4 separate regions of the Homo sapiens genome follow, and all the other regions are linked to region 1. Evidence: fine-mapped expression QTL. A gene starts in region 1. Each other region holds a variant in brackets. All regions are shown on one strand. Distances are from middle to middle. Region 1 holds the start of HOXB-AS1 (HOXB cluster antisense RNA 1). Region 2 overlaps SKAP1 (src kinase associated phosphoprotein 1). Region 3 overlaps LOC124904019 (a long non-coding RNA gene). Region 4 overlaps CDK5RAP3 (CDK5 regulatory subunit associated protein 3).

Region 1 (5,287 bases):
AGCGCCTCGCGACGCTGCCGGGCCACCCTGGGCTTCTCGCCCGGCTGCTGCTTGGATGGTCTCCCAAACCCCAGCAGCCCGAGTCCATGGGTGTCCCGGCAGCGCCACATTTCTCAGCTGGCCTCTTTTCTTGCCCACTGGGAAGCCAGTTACCATCCCTGGGTGCGGGACCCTGCTTCCCGAGAAAATCCCCGACCCCACTCCACTCCTTGGAGAGCCACCTACAGCTCCCAAAGAGGCCCGGCTCAAGCCCCAGGCCTCGCGTCCCTAGGCTTCTTGAGTTCGGAAAAAGGTCCTACACCGGCTTCGGTCATAAGAAGCAAAAGCCTAGGAAGCCCTTGGATTGTTCCCAATTCCAGTAAACTTCTGCCCCCGCCACGACCCTGAAGACTGTCCACAGGCTTCCTCTCCTTTCACCCTCCTCTGTTCGCTGTACACTCTCTCCCTCGACCTGCCCATCTCTATTTCCAAGCAGAGGCCCCAGAACCACCCGCTCAGGACCAAAGACCCTCTGCTGAGGGGCGGGGAGGTGACCCAGCTTCCTGCAAACTCCCGACTTTTGCCGGAGCCGTGGGCGAAGCGGCCATCAATCGGGTCACCTTTGTACCACCCGGACTTCGCCGGCCCTGGAGGCTTTGCTGCCATATGGGCCGCTGAACCTAATCAACTTCGCACAGGTCCTGGAGGGGTGAGGACCGGCCTTGGGGCCGCGGGGAAAGAGTTTAGGTCCCAACACAAACACTCGTTTTGGTATTATAAAGACATTTATTTAATCTATGAAAATAATGTACAATAAATACTTTCCCCTTTTCCTATTATTAAAGAATTTTAATAAATAATCTACAGTCTAAAACATAAAAAAGAGGAAAATAGGTCCCTCTAGTTATTTTTAAGAAAGTCCCCCTAGAGTTTAATTATTCCTGAGATTTCATTGGAAGGAGTCTACCAAACGGAATTTTTCTGTGTGAATTTTAAAAGATAACCGAGTGCCCAATATTTTAGAAGAAGAAGAAAGGGAGTGGATTAAACGCTAATTCAGTAATACCTGAATTTTAGCAAAACACATAAGTCTATGCGACTGAGGGTGGGAGAGGCTCGATTTTTCCAGTAGACGGCCAAGGAGCGCGGGGGTCGAAAGGACCGGGAGGAGGAAACAGGTTAGGGAAACTGCAGGTCGATGGCACAGAGCGTACTGGTGAAAAAATCCAGCTCTTCCTCGGAAAAAGGGACCGGGCTGTCGAGAGAACCCTGTAGGCTAGGGGAGAGGCCTCCGGATAGCTGGAGACAGGAGTCGGCCGCGAAGAAGTTGAGGTCGGGAAGGAAAGGTGAATCCTGGCGCCCCGAGAAGACGTCTTCTGGCAATGGCCCGGGCTCCAGCCCGCCGGCCCCGCGCAGCGCGCAGCCGGGACTCGACGCGCCTGCGCCCTCTAAGCGAACGGCTAAAGGCCGGGGGTCCGCGCTTAAGGCCCCCGGCACCACCTCCGGCGGGTGACAGCAGGCTTCCCACGCCGCCCGCGAGGCGGAGGGGCCGCCCGGGCTGGCCGCGGGTTCCTCGGCAGGGTCGCAGATGTCCTCCAGGGCTCCCGGGCAGGCAGGCTCCCCATCCGGCGGCTCTCGGTGCTGCGTCTGCCGCTTGTGCTTCATGCGCCGGTTCTGAAACCAGACTTTGACCTGCCTTTCGGTGAGGTCCAGCAAGGCCGCGATCTCGACGCGGCGTGGCCGGCACAGGTACTTATTAAAGTGGAATTCCTTCTCCAGTTCCAGCAGCTGCGTGTTGGTGTAAGCCGTGCGCAGCCTGCGCGCCCCGCCGCCACCAGCCTCCGGCAGTCCCAGGCCATCTGCAGGGAAAACAGGCTCGGCGTCATAGCGGGCCGTGTACTCAGCCCAACCTCAGTTCGGACTACCCCATCCTCCAAAACCAGTATCACCTCTCCCCTTCCTCGCCACCCCACCCCCGCCCCCACCCCAAAGCCGCTCGCTTTACTGCTTTTGGGTTTTCTTCTCTCCCTCTCTAGTCTACAGCCCCGGCCCGGGTCAGGGCAAAGCATTCAGAGCCGCCCACGGGCCACGCAGGGGGCGGAGAGCGGCTCCCTTCGGCGCCGGAACCTCAGATCCCCCTCCCAAGCCCTCCCAGTGGACCCCTCAATTCGGAACTTTCCAACTCAACCGGAGCGAGGGTCAGAAAGATTGTTCTTCACCCCTCTTCCTCCCTAGCTCTGAATTCTTCCTCTTCTCCTAGAGTTGGGGCAGAAAGGACCGAATCTTTTCTGCTTCTAGGGTCTATCCCAGCAACAACATACTCATTCCCCTACACAGATACGGGTGAAAACCTCAATCAAATCATTTTCTTCTAGCAGAAAAAAAGGCGTTTCCCCAACCAGCTTCCAAAATCAGCCATAGGGAGAGAAAGAGAGAGAGAGACAGAAAAAAAAAAAGACGCTGTTAGCGGCCAGGCCTGAACCCCAGTGGGATATTCTACTTCCCCATCCCAGGAATGGAGGGGGTAAGGAACCCCAACAGGCTCGCCACCATTTTTTTTAAACCTCCTTCCACTGCTTTTTCTCCCCCTCTTCTAGCTGCCCCTCACCCCACCCCCACCACGCTTACCGACCTGCAGGCGATCCGACCCCGGAGGCCGGAACGGCGGAGGCGGCCGGAGAAGGAGACGTGGCGGATTGGCTGGGTTTCTTGGCGGATTTCTTCTCTTTCATCCAAGGGAACTCGGGGGCCGGGGGGGCAGCGGGGAGTGGCGGCGGCGGTGGCGGCGGCAGAGCAGGCCCATCTTCGGCTCGCTTTTGGCTCCTGGGTCTCTGAAGGGTGGAGGCGCCGGGCTGGAGGCTGGGGAAGGTTTGCTCGAAAGGAGGAGGAGGAGGAATTAATGTCGACTCCTTGATTGATGAAGTTTGAAATGTCTCCAAGACAGCGGGGAAGGAAGTCAGACACTCGGCGAGCGACGGCTGGCTGTTTATAAACCCAATCTCCCTCTCAAATTCAAAATTCATGGCTTTCAATGGTGGGGGAGGGGGCTGCTGGGGGGGGCGTCAGGAGGGAGGATCGGAAGGGACCCCCCTCCTGCACCCCCCCCGATTTATGTAATGGAGCGATTTTGGGAGGGGGAGATTTCGGTCTCTCTTTTTTTTAATTTTGGGCCTTTATAATTGTATATTGCTGATAAATACAAGCGTATGGGGACTCTCTCTATTAAACCCAGGACTCCAGCGAAATTACAGGGAATTCGTGGTCACGGGACCGGCCTCCGCCAATCGCTCGTCTGGGCCTGGTGGAAAACAGAGAGCATTATTTGGTTTAATTGATTCAAAAACACCAGAGGACCACGACCAGGACACCATGAGCCCCCATTCCTACACCAGTGCCTCACATGCTCTCTCCCCAATGCCTCCGTTTCTCCAGAAAAGCTAGAGGAACCTTTTCCTCATCCCCTTCGAAGGTTAGAAGGTTTCAGAAGCCTGGAAAAGAAGAGACTCTAAGGGAGAAACCTTCCTCTTTTCCAAGTATTTTAATAGAGTAAATTAAGGCCTTCTTTACGTGGCCAGCAGCATCCCCTTCCCTTCTCCCCTTCCCCAGGAAAAGATGAGTGAGGATCTCCGCGTTGGAGGAAGAGGGAGTCGAAAGAGGCTTCCACTCTTTGAAAAAGGTCAGTATTAAGGTGAAAATAAGAAAGAGATTTACAATCATCACACCACTATCCCTGTTACCCTCCAAAAACAACAGTTAAATCTTGGGAAATGGACAGGAACTCCCAGGCAGACACATAGGAGTGAGATGGAGCATAAGGGGCATTTTTGGGCCTCTGGCCTCCATCGCTGTATGGTCTGGGTTCTCTTCTCTGCCCAGTGTTTGCAGCACTGCCTCTGCCCCTTATGTACCCCTGCTTTCCTCACTTTCAGGCTTCCATGCTTCTCTGTGACATCCCCCAAAAACAGGCAGAGTCTAAGATGTGCATGTACCCACTCAAGCCTCAAGCTTGTATCTGTATCCATATCCAGGGACATGAACAAGAACTGAGGTAGCCATTGGTTTAACTTAGAGCACTCTCAAAGTTCAGATCAGCGTTATGTGTGTGCATGAGTGTGGTGGGGAGATTTTCCCCTAGGACAAAGAGACTTTCCCTCCCATTTTTGCCATTGTGCTAGTTAAAAAAGAAAAAAGAAAAAAAAAAAAAAAAGAATCCCTGACAAGGAAGAATTCCCTGAAGATGGTAGGGGTGGAAATAATGACCACTGAGATGATATTCCATTTCTGGCTGCTGGGGGAAAATGTTTTTAAAATTTATTTTATTTTGAGGAGACCAAGATAGTCTGAAGTTTAGAGTGTTGTAATTTACTATGGGGAGAGGGCACAAGACTCTGAGCCCCAAGCAATTGGTGGGAAACTAGGCCTCAAAGCAGAAAATGAAAAGTCGATCTGGGGGAAGATTTTTAAATAAGTGGGTCAGACGGATGGAGAGGAGATGAGGCGATCAATCTTAGCCCCCTGACAGCTCCCTCCGATTGCATCAAAGAATTTGGCTCTTTGGGAAAGCAGAGCGAACAGCCAAAATTTCACATCCCTTAAAAAGGCCTGGGGGTGGGGGTGGGGGTGCAAAAGAGAAGGGTGATTCTGGGAGAGCTGGGAAACAGATGGGAAATGGGGACAGAGGGAAAGCGCTAAGTTGGGTGGAAAGTTTGCCTGGAGAACTCCCATGGCTTTGGCCTCCCCTCCCCCTCCTCTCTCTCTGCTGCCCAGCCAGGAGGAGAAGGCTGGTTAGCAGAGAAATGGCAACTGAGCCCGGAGCTGGAACTAGAAACTTTCTGTCAGTGTAACATCTGCGTGAGTACTTAAAAAGAAGGACAGAGAAGTCTGAGTAGAAGCATGAGGGTGGGGGAGAGGAGGATGGAGAAAGGGGAGTTGGAGGTGGGGGCTGCAGGGACCGAGGAGGCATGCTCTGGAGGGCTCAGAACAGAGAGAGCTGCTCTGACCTGGGCAAAGTGGCCAGCGACAGTAGTGTGCAACTAGGCTCCAAAGAAAACAATTTTTGCCATTTAGAGGTGTGGATGGGGGTGGGCATAGAATAATCCAAATAGTAGCTGTCTGGAAGTCATGCAGGGAGGCCTGAGAGTGGGTTCTCCCTCTGGCCACCCCCTTGAACACCTCTGAAAGTTTAGCAACAGCTTCTGTAGCTGGCTGAAGGATCCAGAGCTTATCTCAGGCAACTCGGGCAGACTGTCCCTGCAGGAAATACAGCTCTCTCTAACCCTCACTGACAGATTTTATGGCCAGATTAGCA
Region 2 (5,616 bases), 150 kb before region 1:
GTCTAGCACTCGAGAAGTTCCTGTGGGATTGATTTTTTTCCCATCTTCTCTGAGCCCTTTGCTGAGTGTGATAAGCAGGACTGCATTTCATTATCAACCCTGCTAGCACTGTACTTCAGGGAGACTAGAGGAGGCTACACACTAGGAGAGAAGATCCAGAATCCAAAGAAGAAATGATTCACATGGTGTGATTATAAAAACCCACTTTATGCTCAACTCATTTTCAACAGAATCATGAAATAAAATAAAATCCCAAGAAATGAAATTTCCTGCATCACATTCCAAATTTTTTAAAAAGTCATGGGGGTACCATAAAAGAAATCAAATAGAAGTTTTAAGGTTTGGTTGGTAATGTGTGCATTTTTGGAACATTTATTTAAAAAAATAATTCCAAACAACATTTTGGGTAAGCAACCTAAAAAGAAAACATAAGATTATCATTAGGGGAATCTTCAAGTGACTCAGTGTTACAGAAGTAACATCAGAACAAAGGGCTTGGCTCCTGACACTTGGCCCAGTGCTCTTGCATTTCCCTCCCCTCTGTTCCAGTTTCCCTGTAACACAGAAAGTGGATACAGGCTGGGTCCATATCAGAAACAAGAGAAAACATGCAAATTAGAGAAAACCATCATCAGTAAGGTCCCAAGCCACAGGTTCCTGGAATCCACAAACAGATAAATACAGAGAGGCCTTTTTCATTGGCTTTCCTTAAACAGAGAAAATAGCATAGCTCTGGGACAAAAGGCTAGCTCCAGATCAAATGAGACTTAAAATCAAAGCCAAAGCAAATGGTGATAAAAATGAAGGCAGTAATTTCATACAGATGATCTTTTCACACAATGTATGAATTAAGTCCATCTACAGACAGTGAGGCTTCACGTATTAAAAAAAAAGGACACAGGATTTTCTGAAACCAAGACAAATCCATATTGAGTAGCTAATAGGAATGTGCCCAAGTGATAACGATGGCTAAAATTCTATCAGGAGTAAAGCAAATTTCAGTGACCTAACTATACAGTTAAAGAGTACGGCTCAGCTTATTATTCTAATGGGTTAGTCAGACTGTAAGGGTGCAAGTTCAGTTACCTGCCTGTGTTCTAGCTCACAATCCCAAACTCCTTTTCACTCTTGATTGAGGAGCTCAGTACTGGGAAGAATTATACATGATCTAGTTTTGCAAGTGATCTAAAAACTCTCTTAAAAATACATTGTCCTAGGTGCGGTGGCTCACGCCTGTAATCCCAGCACTTTGGGAGGCCAAGGTGGGTGGACTGCTTGAGGCCAGGAGTTCAAGATCAGCCTGGCCAACATGGTGAAACCCCGTCTTCACTAAAAATACAAAAATTAGCCAGGTATGGTGGTGCACGCCTGTAGTCCCAGCTACTCGGGTGGCTGAGGCACAAGAATTGCTTGAATTTGCGGAGGTTGCAGTGAGCCAAGATCATGCCACTGCACTCCAGTCTGGGTGACAGAATGAGACTCTGTCTCAAAAAAACAAAAAACTAACTAACTAACAACAACAACAACAACATCAAAAACATTTTTCTGAACTTCAATCTAAAATCTTAAAGATATAAAATGAAAATATAAAAGGTATGGTTTATTCTGAACCACCAAGGACTATGGTCATTATTACATTAAAAAATGTTATTTAAGAAAAATTGTTCTACTTCCAGATAGCCTCACATATGAAAGAATAAACAAAATAATCATTATGATAAAATTATAAGGAGAGTTATACATTTCAAAGCTATTTTGAAAGGACAGAGACTTGCCATAAAAAACACATAAGATGATCTTCCTTACCAGGTCTTAAAAGTTAAGCCAAGAGATCAACAGTAAGTAATATTCTATCTTTCTCACCTGTAGGGCATTCCAGATTAAAACAGCAATAAATACAACCTCTCATTCCTAGAGAAGTAGATTCACAAAACTCTTTAACTCAGTTGTGAAATCTCAACATTCATCCACTGAATAACAGAGAACTAAGCAAAAATTTGACTGATATAACTGATGAGTTGAGTAATAATGTTGAAGTTGTTGTGGGTTTGTTTTTTCTTCCTTTAAGGATGGGAGGGAGGGATAAGACTGAAAAAGGAAGAAATGAGTTATTAACCTTCCAGATGTGGTCAAATTATTGCTATGACTTTTGAGCCTTTTCAGAGCTATTTAAACTTAGACGGATCATTCAACTACCTCTTCCTTTTTTTTTTTTTTTTTTTCTGCATTGGCACTGAAGCTCCAGTACAAGTAGCAAAATTAAAAAACAGAAAAAGATGTTATGAGTAAATCTTGAAACTTGTGAATAACATAAATGTATTAATAGCACATTATACATTAGTTCTTTTGATAAGCATACTTCATTTGAATGTGTTTTGTTTTGGGGATTTTTAAGCTCAATAATTAACATTTAAGAAAAGTAAAACTCTCTATATAATTAATGGTAATTATATTTACAGTATACTACTTCAAAACTCTTGCTCCCAAG[A/C]GTTTTATCAGGCTAACTCCTTGTCTTTCTTCCTATAATACAAAAATATCAGAATTATACATTCTTAAGCTAAATCTTGTTTTAAAGCTAAATCCACGTTAAGCTGAAAAGAAAACATGAAATTCCCAAAGAAAGTCAGAATTATTTTTATGAGATTTTACTAGTATATCATGTTTCACACAGAGCTATAGGTTAGCCACCCACAAATGAGACACGTTCAAGATATTCTTTCAGCCTGTAGTTTAAATGTCCTGAGTTTTGTGCCATAACCCTGTTACACAAAATGTATTTCTTTATTTCTTTCCATCTCAATATGATATAAATCTACTGGTCTCTTTTTGGAACTCCTTCAGCATTACTAAGTTTCACAGAAGGAAACAATACTCCAAGTTTGCTTCCATTGGCTCTGTCCTTCACTTCCAACAGGGAGCATAAATGACTACTTATCCAAGAAGGGCCATTGAGAGAGAAATTAAGCCATATCTCAATAATAAAAATATTCTATTTTTGGCTGGGCGTGGTAGCTCACTCCTGTAATCCTAGCACTTTGGGAGGCCAAGGTGAGTGGATCACCTGAGGTCAGGAGAGACCAGCCTGGCCAACATGGTAAAACCCCATCTCTACCAAAAATACAAAAACCTTTAGCCAGGTGTGGTGGCTCATGCCTGTAATCCCAGCTACTTGGGAGGCTGAGGCACAAGAATCGCCAGAACCTGGGAGGTGGAGGTTGCAATGAACCAAGATCGCACCACTGCACTCTAGCCTGGGCAACAGAGACTCGGTCTCAAAAAAAATATATATATATATATTTTTTTTTTCTTTACCCCTCCCCCACTCTCAACGTATTCTTGCAGTCAGATGGCCTCCACTGAATCAAACATTTAAAAAATGCTCTACTGTTTCTCCCAATGCGTTAGAATGCCATCAAGTGTCTGAGCACAGATCACAACTGCTTCATTCCAGGTGTCTCACATCTGGTGCTAATCCTGCAGTGACCATCGTAATAAAGCAGGAAGTGCCTTTGCCTGGCTTTCATACTAGCCACTCTCCAAAGGGCTCAATGAAAACTTAGACTTGGAATGTGAAAGCTGTTTAGTTTTTAAGAAAAGCAATGAAAATCACAGCTTAGGACAACAAATACCACAATAGGGCTTCATTTCCTTGGAATCACAGAAATTGCTATCCGTTTTTATTTTGTGTTACATGGAAAATATTAGCCTTCATTGGTAACACTTTCAAACAAAAAGAAAAGAGTATGTAAATATAGATAGGATTTTATTTTTTGTTTCTAAGTCTAAAAAAAGATAGCTATTTTTTGTTTCTAAGTCTAAAAACAGAATAGCTAAAGTGATTTGTACTGAAAAACATGAGCACTTGGAGAACACCCAGGATTCTTGACACAATTGTCTTTTCCTGTGGTCATTCACTCTAGACAACAAAAAATAGCAAAAAGCACATTATAATAGCTGTGATAGAGTCAGATGCTTCCATTTACAGCAAGTCCACAACCATGGCAAATACCAGTGAATGCCAAGCCAGCCATAAAAATAAGAGCTAAGCCCCTAAAGTTTACCAAGAATCACAGACAGTGCTACTTTTATTTCTCTCCACCCTTTTGTTTCTAGAGCAATACACGTTGAGGAAAGAATTAAAGGAAGCAAGGAAACAACAAAGAGACTAGGAAGTTGTAAAATATATATATATGTGTGTGTAAATATATAATTTACATTTATCTAGTAGTGGCTTTTCCAGATTATCTTGCTAGAGATTTATCTACCTTCCAAATAAGACTTGAAGTGCTAAATTATAGTTTTAGATAGGTTACCACCCCCCCCAAATTTATCAAACTCCTAAAATATTATTGTTTTAATCTGACTAAAAATAGGCCAGGCACAGAGACTCAGGCCTGTAATCTCAGCATTTTGGGAAGCCAAGACAGGAGAACTGCTTGAGTGCAAGAGTTCCAGACCAGCCTGGGCAACACAGTGACACCCTGTCTCTACAAAAAGTAAAAAATTAGCCAGGCATGGTGATGTGCAGCTACTCAGGAGGCTGAGGTCGGGGGATCGCTTGAGCCCAGGAGGTCGAGGCTGCAGCAAGCTGTGATTGTGCCACTGCACTCCAGCCTGGGCCACAGAGTGAGACTCTGTCTAAAAAAGCGAAAAACAAACAAACAAAAAAATGACTAAAAAGAAACCCTTTTAAATGATCTTCATTAATTTTAATTATTTTTGTGTTACTGTATGGTTCATGTATTTGCCGTATGTTTATTTTTTACTCTTTTTTTTTTGAGACAGAGTCTCACTTGGTCGCCCAGGCTGAAGTGCAATGTAATGATCATGGCCCACTGCAGCCTCAACCTGCTAGGCTCAAGTGATCCTCCTACCTCAGCCTCCCAAATGGCTGGGACCACAGGCATATACCACCACACCTGGCTAACTTTTTATTTTTTGTAGAGAGAGAGTTTTGTTATGTTGCCCAGGCTGGTCTCAAACTCCTGGCCTCAAGCGATCTTCTGGCCTCAGCCTCCCAAAGTGCTGGGATTATAGGAGTAAGCCACTGCGTTTAGCCTGCCATACATGTTTAACTCTCAAGTTTGATGACTTCTAAATTTCTTTTTATGCCAAGCTTTTTGGGGGACATATAACTGCCACACAACATAAGTAAATGTGGCAGCTATAAATGGCACAATAGAGGTGATATGGCTGAAGAAGAGGATTCAGGAAAACAAGGGTTACATTAACAGAATGATGATTGAATGGGTGGATGTAAGGCAATTTCAAACAGCTTGCCAAAGGAAAGCCTCGTTTTTCTATTTTCTTGTACAGTATCTAATTTCTGGCTCCTCATTTCCTCAGTGATCTGATAATTATGAAATTCTAAATAAAGTGTCATCTTTCTTGCAACAAGTCAATGAACAGAAAGCTCCCATCAACAATGCAGATATTTCCTAAAGTTCCCGCTGATGATTTCCTGAATGTCTACCCCACAAACCACACACAAAGTTCTTTGAGAACAAGAATTTGAGAACAAGAAACTGACTCTATCCCATGACAAATTCAGCTTGCGTGTGTGTTCATGCATGTGTGTGCATGTGTGTATGTATTTTAAAAGAGGATTAAGAAGTA
Region 3 (5,616 bases), 58 kb before region 1:
TTCCCCCAGACCCAAAGCAGCTGCTCCTCGAAGTCTCTGAAAACAAAAATCCTCATGAATAAATATTAGGGAAGAAATGAGTTTTCTCAAGAACAAAAGCAGATTTGAGGAAGTTCTCTGGGAGAGGTTGGGATCTTTCATCTCATGAAATAAGTAATCTATGTATCACTCAGACTCTGCTTGCCAATTCCCCTCCTGTTCCACTGATCCGCAGCCACATCCTGCTCCTCCCTCACATGGAAACAGGCAGCACCTAGGCCATCATCTGCTCAGACTTTCCTTCAGAGGAAAAGAGAAACCACAAACAGCTGCCGTGTGGGCCCTCCTGCCAGATTCCGGATTCCAGCTCAGACCACGGATCTCGATGACTTCATTGGTATCTGAGCTGGAACTCTCTTCTCCAGGGACAGAGAGGCCGCCAGCATCCCTGCAGAGCCCCCAGAAAAAGAGGAAGCTGCATGGTGGGTTCACACCTGGGCCAGTACAAAAAGGTCATGCTTGGAGAGATACACCAAGATCTCCACCTGAGGGCTGAGTCCTGGCCCAGGGCTTGCTTCACTAGTTGGCAGCCTGGGGTGAGTCCCTCTCCCCACCTCCACCCTGCCCCTTCAAAAAGCCTGTTGCTCATTGAATCAAAAGACATTCCTAAGTGAGAGTCTCATTCCCTTTCATCTGGATCCAAATGGAAATGCAAATACCATGGGACAGAATGTGCCTCTGTGGGAATGAATTTATCAGACCCTGTCCACAGCAGTTTTGCTGAAAGAGAAATTTAGTTTTTCTGAGAGAGCCTGGTGAGGCAATGGAGTTAAGGGGCCAAATGGTTCAAAACTTCTACAAGGTTAGTGCTGGAGGGGAAGCTTCAGCAATCATGAGCCAGACTCCTCCTGTTGCAGATGAGGAAACCAAAGCCCAGAGAGGAGTGTCTTTCACAGCATCATACAGCAAGTTAATATGGCTTAGGATGCTAGAACTTAGGTGTCCCGACTCTAAGCCTGGTGCCAGTTGCAGAAAACAAAAGCCCAAGGCCTGAAAGATAAACTTGGCCTCCTTCAAAATCTGATGGGGGCTGGCACTTTCTGCCTTCAGAATATTTGTTTCCACCAGGAGTGAATCTCAGTTCTTGGCTGTGAGCAGTTGCAGAGGTCACATGAGTGGACAAAAAAGGAATGTGAGTGAGAAGGGAGATGGGGTGAAGATCTTCCTGAACAATGACTTAGCGAGGACAAGTCTGAATCTCCAACTTCATCAGACTCTGTGAACGGTGTTAAATCTTGACTTAGGGGCTATGGGCTTTTGCCTCTCTTTGTAGCCACAGTTGCCCAAAGAGAACTAGTAATGCTGTTATCTTCAGATGCAAAGGATAACACATTAGTAAATTATTCCTTGCTTATACTTCTAATGTCACATTCCCCTTGTCTTATAGTTGTTTTGTGATGAAAGAAACTAATGGGATCTTAGAATCAGACCTGGGTTACATGGCTTAAACTTTTTAAAAAAAATTTAATTGTGGTAAAATATGCATAACATAAAATTCACCATCTTAATGATTGTTAAGTGTATAGTTTAGCAGTGTTAAGTATATTGACGTTATATTGCAACCTTTTTTCATCTTGAACAACTGAAGCTGTACCCATTAAACAACGGTTCCTCATTCTCCATTCCCTTTCAGTCCCTGACAACCACCACTCTACTTTCCATCACCATGAATTTGATGACTCATGAGTGGAACCACACAGTATTTGTCCTTTTGTGAATCACTTATTTCACTTAGCATAATGTCCTCACAAGGTTCATTCATGTTGTAGCACATGTCAAAATTTCTTTCCTTTTTTTTTTTTTTTTTTTTTTGAGATGGAGTCTCATGCTCTTTCCCCCAGGCTGGAGTGCAGTGGCATGATCTGGGCTCATTGCAACCTCCGCCTCCTGGGTTCATGCCATTCTCCTGCCACAACCTCCCGAGTAGCTGGGACTACAGGTGTGCGCCACCACGCCCAGCTAATTTTTTGTATTTTTAGTAGAGACGGCGTTTCACCATGTTAGCCAGGATGGTCTCGATCTCCTGACCTCATGATCTGCCTGCCTCGGCCTCCCAAAGTGCTGGGATTACAGGCGTGAGCCACCATGCCCGGCCTTCAATTTCTTTCCTTTTTAAGGCTGAATAATATTCCATTTTATGGATATGCCACATTTTGTTTATCTATTTATCCACTGATGGACACTTGGGTTGCTTCCACTTTTTGGCCATTGTGAATAATGCTGCTATGAACATGGGTGTACAGATATCTTTTTGAGACCCTGACTTCCTCAATTCTTTTGGATATATATCCAGAAGTAGAACTGGTGAATCCTATGGTAGTTCTATTATCAAGTTTTGGAAGAATAACCATACTGTTGGCTTAAACTTATTGGGCTTTTATTTTCCTCATCTATAAAGTAGACTTGAGGTTGTTGTGAGTATTAAAGAAATCATGTGCATAAAGCTCTTGGCTCAATGCCTGGTACATGGTTGAAATTTAAGAACTGGTTGTTTCCTATGAACTCTTGAAGACAGAGACTGTTTCATTTCGGTATCTAACCATTTAGCATGGCGCCAGACATATAGTAGGGGTTCACTATATGACTGTTAGTGAATGAATGAATAATGAACAAACATATCCTTGTAACTTTGAAGTATGGCCGGGAGCAGTGGCTCATGCCTGTAATCCCAGTACTTTGGGAGGCTAAGGCAGGCGGATCACCTTAGGTCAAGAGTTCGAGGCCTGGCCAACATGGCGAAACCCTGTCTCTACCAAAAATACAAAAATTAGCTGGGCATGGTGGCAGGCACCTGTAATCCCAGCTACTTGGGAAGCTGAGGGAGGAGAATCACTTGAACCTGGGAGGCAGAGGTTGCAATGAGCCGAGATCGTGCCATTGCACTCCAGCCTGGGAGACAAGAGCGAGACTCCATCTCAAAAAAAAAAAACAAAAAAAACCTTTGAAGTACATAGAATAATTCCTGCACATTGTGGGTGTTTAATAAATTTCAAATGAATGCATGTAATAATCCTATATGAAGC[C/A]TACTTCTTCTGCATCCTACTTCATGAGAAAAGGAATTTGCTCATGTCCCTAAAGTTCCTGAAGGACAATTCAGAATCAAGTATTTGACCTACTCCCAACTTTCTGGGGATCCTCCTCTTTCACCATTCATGGCAAATTCTACTGTGCAAGGGATACAAAGGAGGAAGATCTCCATGTGAGAGTAACCGAGCACTTCAGTCTGCACTGTGCTTGCTAAGTTTTCTCTCTTTCTACCATGTTCACAGAACACTTGCTGTGAGCTCCAAAGCATGTTGAAGAGCGGGGCTGTCCATGTTGAATCCTGTTAGTCATGCAGCTGAGGGAATTCCAATCACCTGACCCGGGTCTGACCGCAGTTACCAGTCTCAAGTCTGAGCAGCGTCTCCAGTGCTGGGCTGCCTTCTTGACTCCAGGAGGCATGCCTGCTCTTACAATGAAACTCAAGTCTTTTTTTTTCCTTCCCACAAGTTTGGCTTCTACTTTTCTAAGTGCTGTTCATCATATACTCTGTGTTGTAAGTACTCAGCTCTCTAGCATCTCTTTATACTACCTTTTATTCTTCTGGAATATCCTTCCTTCCCACCCACAAGCATATTAGGCAAAACTTGCCCACCGTGGTAACTGGAAACAGGACTGAGGGGAAGGAAAACTCTCTCCCAGGTGCATGGAGTGGGAACTCATTTAGGGCATCTTTAGTGCCATACATAGAACCTGGAATACAATAGGAGCTCAATTAATACATGTTAAATGGATAAATATTGGTTAAATGCATCATGTTTCTATACAATTCTCTTTAAACTATAAACTCCCCAAGCACAAAGTTAAGAACTATGTCTCTCTTATCAGACAAGATGCCTCCTAACCCAGATTATACAGGAGCATTGTGAGGGCAAGCCCATGCCAACTCCACATTCTGTGAGCTCCCAAAACTCCACCAAGGACCTTGCTTAATGATGACTTAGACCAGGGTTTCTCGACCTCAGCATTATTGACATTCTGGGCCAGATCCTTCTCTGATGTAGGGAGCTGACTGGTGCATTGTAAGATGTTCAGGGACATCCCTGGCCTTTACCCACTAGATGCCCATAGCAACCCCCTCCCAGTTGTGACAACCAAAAATGCCTTCAGATAACAACAGATATCCCCTGTGTTTGGGGGAATGAAGAGGTACAAAATCACTCCCTGTTGAGAACTACTGACTTAGACTGAAGCAAAACACGAAGGGATTTCTCTACTTTTTATTGCCTGTGGGAATGGAAAATATTTTTCTAGCAGAGAAGTTGAATATTTATTAGATTAAGAATTGGGCCGGGCACAGTGGCTCATGCCTGTAATCCCAGCACTTTGGGAGGCCGAGGCGGGCAGATCACAAGGTCAGGAGATCAAGACCATCCTGGCTAACACAGTGAAACCTCGTCTCTACTAAAAATACAAAAAATTAGCTGGGCGTGGTGGCGGGCACCTGTAGTCCCAGCTATTTGGGAGGCTGAGGCAGGAGAATGGCGTGAACCCAGGAGGCAGAGCTTGCAGTGAGCTGAGATCCGGCCACTGCACTCCAGCCTGGGCAACAGAGAGAGACTCCGTCTCAAAAAAAAAAAAAAAAATTGGGCCAGGCGCAGTGGCTCACACATGTAATCCCAGCACTTTGGGAGGCCGAAGCCGGCGGATCACAAGGTCAGGAGTTCGAGACCTGCCTGGCCAAAATGGTGAAATCCCGTTTTTACTAAACATGCAAAAATTAGCCAGGCATGGTGGCAGGTGCCTGTAGTTCCAGCTACTCAGGGGACTGAGGCAGGAAAATCACTTGAACCAGGAGGCAAAGGCTGCAGTGAGCCAAGATTGCGCCACTGCACTGCAGCCTGGGTGACAGAGTGAGACTCCATCTCCAAAAAAAAAAGAATTGATGAAAAATGTACTTCCAACTCCCAGGTGTTCTCAGAATTGAACCCGGGAGGACTCCAGGTGAGAAAATCTTTGCCAGGGACAAAATTTCCTTGTCTAACCATTGGAGTGCAGAACAGAGTGACAGAAGAGGGAAGTGCTAGAGGGTAAGGGCATGCCCCAACAGAAGTTACTGGAAACAGCAATTACTTTCCATTCCTTGGGACCTACTAGGGCTCTGAACCTGGATTCAAATACATAAAGGCCCACTATGGTTGGGGCCTACTTGCCTACTGAAATTGGAGTTTCAGAGACTGAGTGACCTTTCTGATATTGCACAGCACATCAGAGACAAAACCAGCACTTGAACTCCCTTTGAGTTAGACATCTGAAGGACAAGGGCATGTGGTGCATCCCCAGCTATCCAGTGCCTTTTCTTTTTTCTTTCCCAATCCAGTGACCCCTCTGATTGTAGGATAACAGACCAGACAGGCAAAAGGTATCTGTGGGTGATCTTTGCTTGGGGGTAGGGTTGGGTAGGGGGCAGAGCTGCTCACAACAGCAGGCCATTTCCCAAGATGCTCAGGGTTGCTGGCTTCTGCACTCACCATCTCACTTTCTGGTTGCTGCGTGGAGATAAGCTATCGACTTCTGCACAGGATCAACCAAGGA
Region 4 (5,000 bases), 570 kb before region 1:
ACCTGCAGTGCCCAGAGTAGGTGAAGAAGATACTTTAGTTCTCGAAATCCCGTCTCTTGCTTTCTAGACATTCACTACTTTCACTGCCTAAGAATCCTGGACCTTCTCAAAGGCACAGAGGCCTCCACGAAGAATATTTTTGGCCGATACTCTTCACAGCGGATGAAGGCAAGTGTGGGCCAAGGGCCGGTAGTATGTGGTTGGGGACATCCAATCCGAGGAGTCATAGCCTCTGTGGTCTCTCTGAGGCTCCAGTGGGGATGCCTACATAGAATATTTCCTGAACTTTCACTCTGTCTCTATAGTTTACTCCAAAAGTGGATCCTATCCCTGAGTTTAATTTTCAAACCCACTGCTTTAGGGATTGCCTGCACTCTTAAAGTGGGTGGTCCAGCCAGCAGAGTTGAAAGAAGGACAAGGAGTTTGTGTTTGATGTGATGTAAAGGCTGGGAGAACTTACCCTGTTTAGGGATTGAGCTGGGATGTGGCTGTCGAGTGCTTTTCTGGCTTAACATTGTTTTTCTGTTCTTACTCAGGATTGGCAGGAGATTATAGCTCTGTATGAGAAGGACAACACCTACTTAGGTAAAGTGGCCCGGCCTGGGAGCCCTGGTATCCATGGGGAAGCCCACTCTCAGAGTTCTGAGATACCAGGCTTATAGGAGGCACAGTCTGTGAGTGGGAAGAGACTGGAGTGTAGATGTTGCCCATTTGTAGGTGGTAAAATCAATTGTTTTTGATGGAATTGATTTTCCCTGAGTGGAGTGCTGGGGGAAGGAGGAGGTCCAGGCCGGTAGTGGCCATTCGCCGTGCCTCAGCGAGCAGGTGTGTGTGGGTCCTCCACCACTCACCTCTTGGTTAGCGGGAGTGTGCTGCCCCCACCCCCACCCCCGCACCCCCATTCTACACAAGGCAGAAGAGGCACGGGTTTTTCTGGGAGCGAATATCAAGTGCCTGAGAGCAACTACAGGACTAACTGTGTTTGGGTTGGGTGTAGTATAAATAATAATAATGGCTAATATTTCCTGAGCATCTACTAAATGCAAGGAATTGTGCTTGGTGTGTCATGTGGATTCTCTCTTGCATCTTCATGATAAATGTTATTGTCGCTGTTTTACCGATGAGGGTTGGATTAGAGGGGTTAAACAACTTGTCTTAGGCTCCACAGCTGGGAACAAGTGGGGCTGGGAAGCTGACTTCGTGCTCTTCACCACCACAAAGGATGTGTGTGCATCCTGGGGCATGCCTGCCTCATGTGGGGGTGTCCTGGGCTGAATTTCCTGGGCACTTCTCAGTGGAACTCTCTAGCCTCCTGGTTCGGAATGTCAACTATGAGATCCCCTCACTGAAGAAGCAGATTGCCAAGTGCCAGCAGCTGCAGCAAGAATACAGCCGCAAGGAGGAGGAGTGCCAGGCAGGGGCTGCCGAGATGCGGGAGCAGTTCTACCACTCCTGCAAGCAGTATGGCATCACGGTGAGCGGCGGCAGCCTCTTCGCAGCCAGAGGACACCTGGGCCCCTGCTTGTCTTCCTCTGACCCCGTCTGACCCCTCAGCCTGGTTGCACCCCCTTTGGGCCAGTGTCTTACTTTTCTTCGGTCTTTGGATGTTTTCTTCAATCTGTTGGACTCCACCTCTTCTCCCCTCTCTAGGGCGAAAATGTCCGAGGAGAACTGCTGGCCCTGGTGAAGGACCTGCCGAGTCAGCTGGCTGAGATTGGGGCAGCGGCTCAGCAGTCCCTGGGGGAAGCCATTGACGTGTACCAGGCGTCTGTGGGGTTTGTGTGTGAGAGGTAGAGAGGCCTCAGCTTCTCCTGGTGGGGGTGCTTTGCCTGTGTTCCCCAGCTCATGACCCTTCTCCAGTTGTCTTGTTCCCATATAACATTTGAACTCTTTACACACCTGAACCTGTGGGGGCCTTGCCCATTTGACCATGTGGCCCAGGCCAAAGCCCAGTGTTGGCCTTACGCATGGTCGGCAGGAGAGTCAGTTGTGTGCTCTGTTGAAGCCCCACAGAGCAGGTGTTGCCAATGCTGCGGTTCGTGCAGAAGCGGGGAAACTCAACGGTGTACGAGTGGAGGACAGGGACAGAGCCCTCTGTGGTGGAACGACCCCACCTCGAGGAGCTTCCTGAGCAGGTGGCAGAAGATGCGGTAAGATGGGCCTTGTGATGAGCTGTAGGAGTGGAGTGGGAGCTGCTTGTCCCCTCCCCACCCCCAACAGCCCAACCCAAGACCCAGAGAGAAGAAGGGAGGATTTCTGTGAGAGTGACTGTAGGTAGAAGGGCCCAGGAGGCCCTACTCCTTTATTTTTCTGAGTATAGGTGAGTGAGTGCCACAGAGGCTTTGCAAGGTGGTTCGCTTTGAACTCGGAACCTCCATCATGTGAGCTCTCTGAAGATGGGCTTTCTTTG[G/A]GGTAGCTTAGAGGCCACTGCATTTGAACAGTGTGCTCTCTACAGAAGCAGCTGAGGCCTGTGGGAAGGCAGCCCCACCCTCCTTTTTAAATTAATTTATTTTTGAGACTGGGCCTTGCTCTGTTGCCCAGGCTGGAGTGCAGTGGCATGATCCTTGCTGACTGCAACCTCTGCCTCTCAGCCTCAAGCGATCCTCCCAAGTCAGCCTCCAAGATAGCTGGGATTACAGGTTTGCACCACCACTCCTAGCTAATTTTTTATTAACATCTTTGTAGGGACAGGATTTTGCCATATTGCCCAGGCTGGTCTCAAACTCCTGGGCTCAAGCAATCCACTATCCTCGGCCTCCCAAAGTACTGGGGTTACAGACATGAGCCACCATGCCCGGCCCTTTTTAAATCCATCTTCCATGAGCTAACACTCTCTTTCCCTTTCCAGATTGACTGGGGCGACTTTGGGGTAGAGGCAGTGTCTGAGGGGACTGACTCTGGCATCTCTGCCGAGGCTGCTGGAATCGACTGGGGCATCTTCCCGGAATCAGATTCAAAGGTGAGGAGGCCTTCTCAGTCTGTCTCTCTCTGATCACTACTCTAACCATAAGAAAAGTGTCATTTGTGTCTGTAACGGCATCACTTGAAGTTCATAGCTCTAAGACCAGGTATAGTCCAAGGGAGGCAGAGTTTCACACGTCACATGTCAGAGTTTTGTTTTGTTTTTTGAGACAGAGTCTCATTCTGTCGCCCAGGCTGGAGTGCAGTGGTGCAATCTCGGCTCACTGCAACTTCCGCCTCCCAGGTTCAAGTGATTCTCCTGCCTCAGCCTCCCAAGTAGCTGTGATTATAGGCGCCCACCACCACACCCCTCTAATTTTTTATTTTGTTTGTTTGTTTGTTGAGACAGAGTCTCACTCTGTCGCCCAGGCTGGAGTGCAGTGGCATCATCTTGGCTCACTGCAACCTCTGCCTCCCGGGTTCACGCCATTCTCCTGCCTCAGCCTCCTGAGTAGCTGGGACTACAGGCGCCCGCCACCACGCCCGGCTAATTGTTTTGTATTTTTAGTAGAGATGGGGTTTCACCATGTTAGCCAGATGGTCTCGATCTCCTGACCTCGTGATCCGCCCGCCTCAGCCTCCCAAAGTGCTGGGATTACAGGCGTGAGCCACCGCGCCCGGCTAATTTTTGTATTTTTAATAGAGACAGGGTTTCGCCGTGTTGGCCATGCTGGTAACTCCTGACCTCAGGTGATCCACCTGCCTCGGCCTCCTGAGGTGCTGGGATTACAAGCGTGAGCCACTGCGCCCAGCCCATGTGAGAGTTAAATTTTGATGTCCTTTTTCTTGGTGTTTGGTACAGGGTGTAGGGGTAAAGGCAGGTGGGAACACTACAGAGCAGGGATGATGGGCCATACTGCCATTTTTGGCACCTAAGTCAGGGCTGCAAATCCTTAATAGAGTTGGAATGTGCAGCCATTGACCTCATCAAGGGCTTTGGTTTATTCTGGCTCCTTGGCTCAGGAAAATTCTCCCCCCATTGCTGTGGTTCTTTGCTCTCCTTCCAGGATCCTGGAGGTGATGGGATAGACTGGGGAGACGATGCTGTTGCTTTGCAGATCACAGTGCTGGAAGCAGGAACCCAGGGTAAGTGCACCATCCCCTGCAGCCCTGGCAAAAGTGGGGTGCTCAAGGGCCCCCACGTGTCTAGAAACAAAAAATGCAGCGCTAAGATGAGGCTTCTTGCACATTTAACTGTTTCTCAAAACCTTGATGAGGATGTGAGCTGAGGGGGACCAAGAGAGGTTTTTTTTTTTTTTTTGGAGACGGAGTTTCGCTCTTGTTGCCCAGGCTGGAGTGCAATGGCATGATCTCAGCTCGCTGCAACCTCCACCTCCTGGGTTCAAGCTATTCTCCTGCCTCAGCCTCCCGAGTAGCTGGGATTACAGGCATGCACCACCACGCACAGCTAATTTTATATTTTTTTAGTAGAGTTGGGGTTTCTCCATGTTGGTCAGGCTGGTCTCGAACTCTTGACCTCAGGTGATCCACCTGCCTCGGCCTCCCAAATGCTGGGATTATAGGTGTGAGCCACCGTGCCTGGCCCAAGAGAGGTTCTTAAAAGTTGAGAGTTTAGAAACTCTCAACTTTTTAGAGACCACATGTGGGCCAGCTGTTATGGTAGGAGGGCTCTAGGGGGATCGGGGCCCTGGAGTGTGACATGACCCCCGCCCCAACAGCAGAGAAGACGTAGTGGTGTCTGAGCCACTAGAGGGCGGTGCAGGATGAAACTTTACCTCCTGCGGTCCACCAGAGCAGAGAGCCGGCCTTTCTACCCCTCTGAACCCAGCTCTGGTCCTCCTCTCAGTCTGGGAGTTGGAAAGTGGTACCTGATTAGAGCTGAGACACCTGGGACAAGGTAGCCTTCCCCCTTGGATTAGAACAAGAAGTGGCTTTAGCACAGTGAGTCTGTCCGTATTAATCCTCCAGGGCTTCTCACACTTGAGGGTCTTTTCCTTCTCCAGTCCTCTGATCCTTTATCACTTCTCTGTCTCTTCCTGGCAGCTCCAGAAGGTGTTGCCAGGGGCCCAGATGCCCTG

Evidence for each region.
Region 2: its variant is fine-mapped to the expression of HOXB-AS1 in whole blood (INTERVAL, PIP above 0.99).
Region 3: its variant is fine-mapped to the expression of HOXB-AS1 in whole blood (INTERVAL, PIP above 0.99).
Region 4: its variant is fine-mapped to the expression of HOXB-AS1 in whole blood (INTERVAL, PIP 0.98).

The regions. Positions count from the first base shown.
Region 1 is chr17:48,541,910-48,547,196 of GRCh38, forward strand. HOXB-AS1 (HOXB cluster antisense RNA 1) reads left to right here and starts at 2,442. Exons shown (of 7, transcript NR_102279.1): 1 at 2,442-2,503; 2 at 3,212-3,448; 3 at 3,586-3,655. It overlaps HOXB2 (homeobox B2), which reads right to left and starts at 3,200. Exons shown (of 2, transcript NM_002145.4): 1 at 2,612-3,200; 2 at 746-1,838. The coding sequence starts at 3,002. The coding sequence ends at 1,159. RefSeq lists a silencer at 1,326-1,615 and an enhancer at 1,423-2,068.
Region 2 is chr17:48,389,582-48,395,197 of GRCh38, forward strand. The region is part of intron 2 of SKAP1 (src kinase associated phosphoprotein 1); the gene reads right to left. Among named protein-coding and RNA genes, the nearest start is that of SKAP1, 38 kb to the right of the region's middle. The variant A/C (reference allele first, on the strand shown) is at 2,489.
Region 3 is chr17:48,483,333-48,488,948 of GRCh38, forward strand. LOC124904019 (a long non-coding RNA gene) reads right to left here. Exons shown (of 2, transcript XR_007065828.1): 1 at 5,553-5,616; 2 at 3,600-3,774. Among named protein-coding and RNA genes, the nearest start is that of HOXB1, 45 kb to the right of the region's middle. RefSeq lists an enhancer at 1-978. The variant C/A (reference allele first, on the strand shown) is at 3,063.
Region 4 is chr17:47,973,864-47,978,863 of GRCh38, forward strand. CDK5RAP3 (CDK5 regulatory subunit associated protein 3) reads left to right here. Exons shown (of 14, transcript NM_176096.3): 4 at 68-168; 5 at 537-585; 6 at 1,296-1,474; 7 at 1,651-1,790; 8 at 2,006-2,150; 9 at 2,849-2,959; 10 at 3,969-4,047; 11 at 4,966-5,000. Among named protein-coding and RNA genes, the nearest start is that of CDK5RAP3, 5.3 kb to the left of the region's middle. RefSeq lists an enhancer at 1,536-2,036. The variant G/A (reference allele first, on the strand shown) is at 2,411.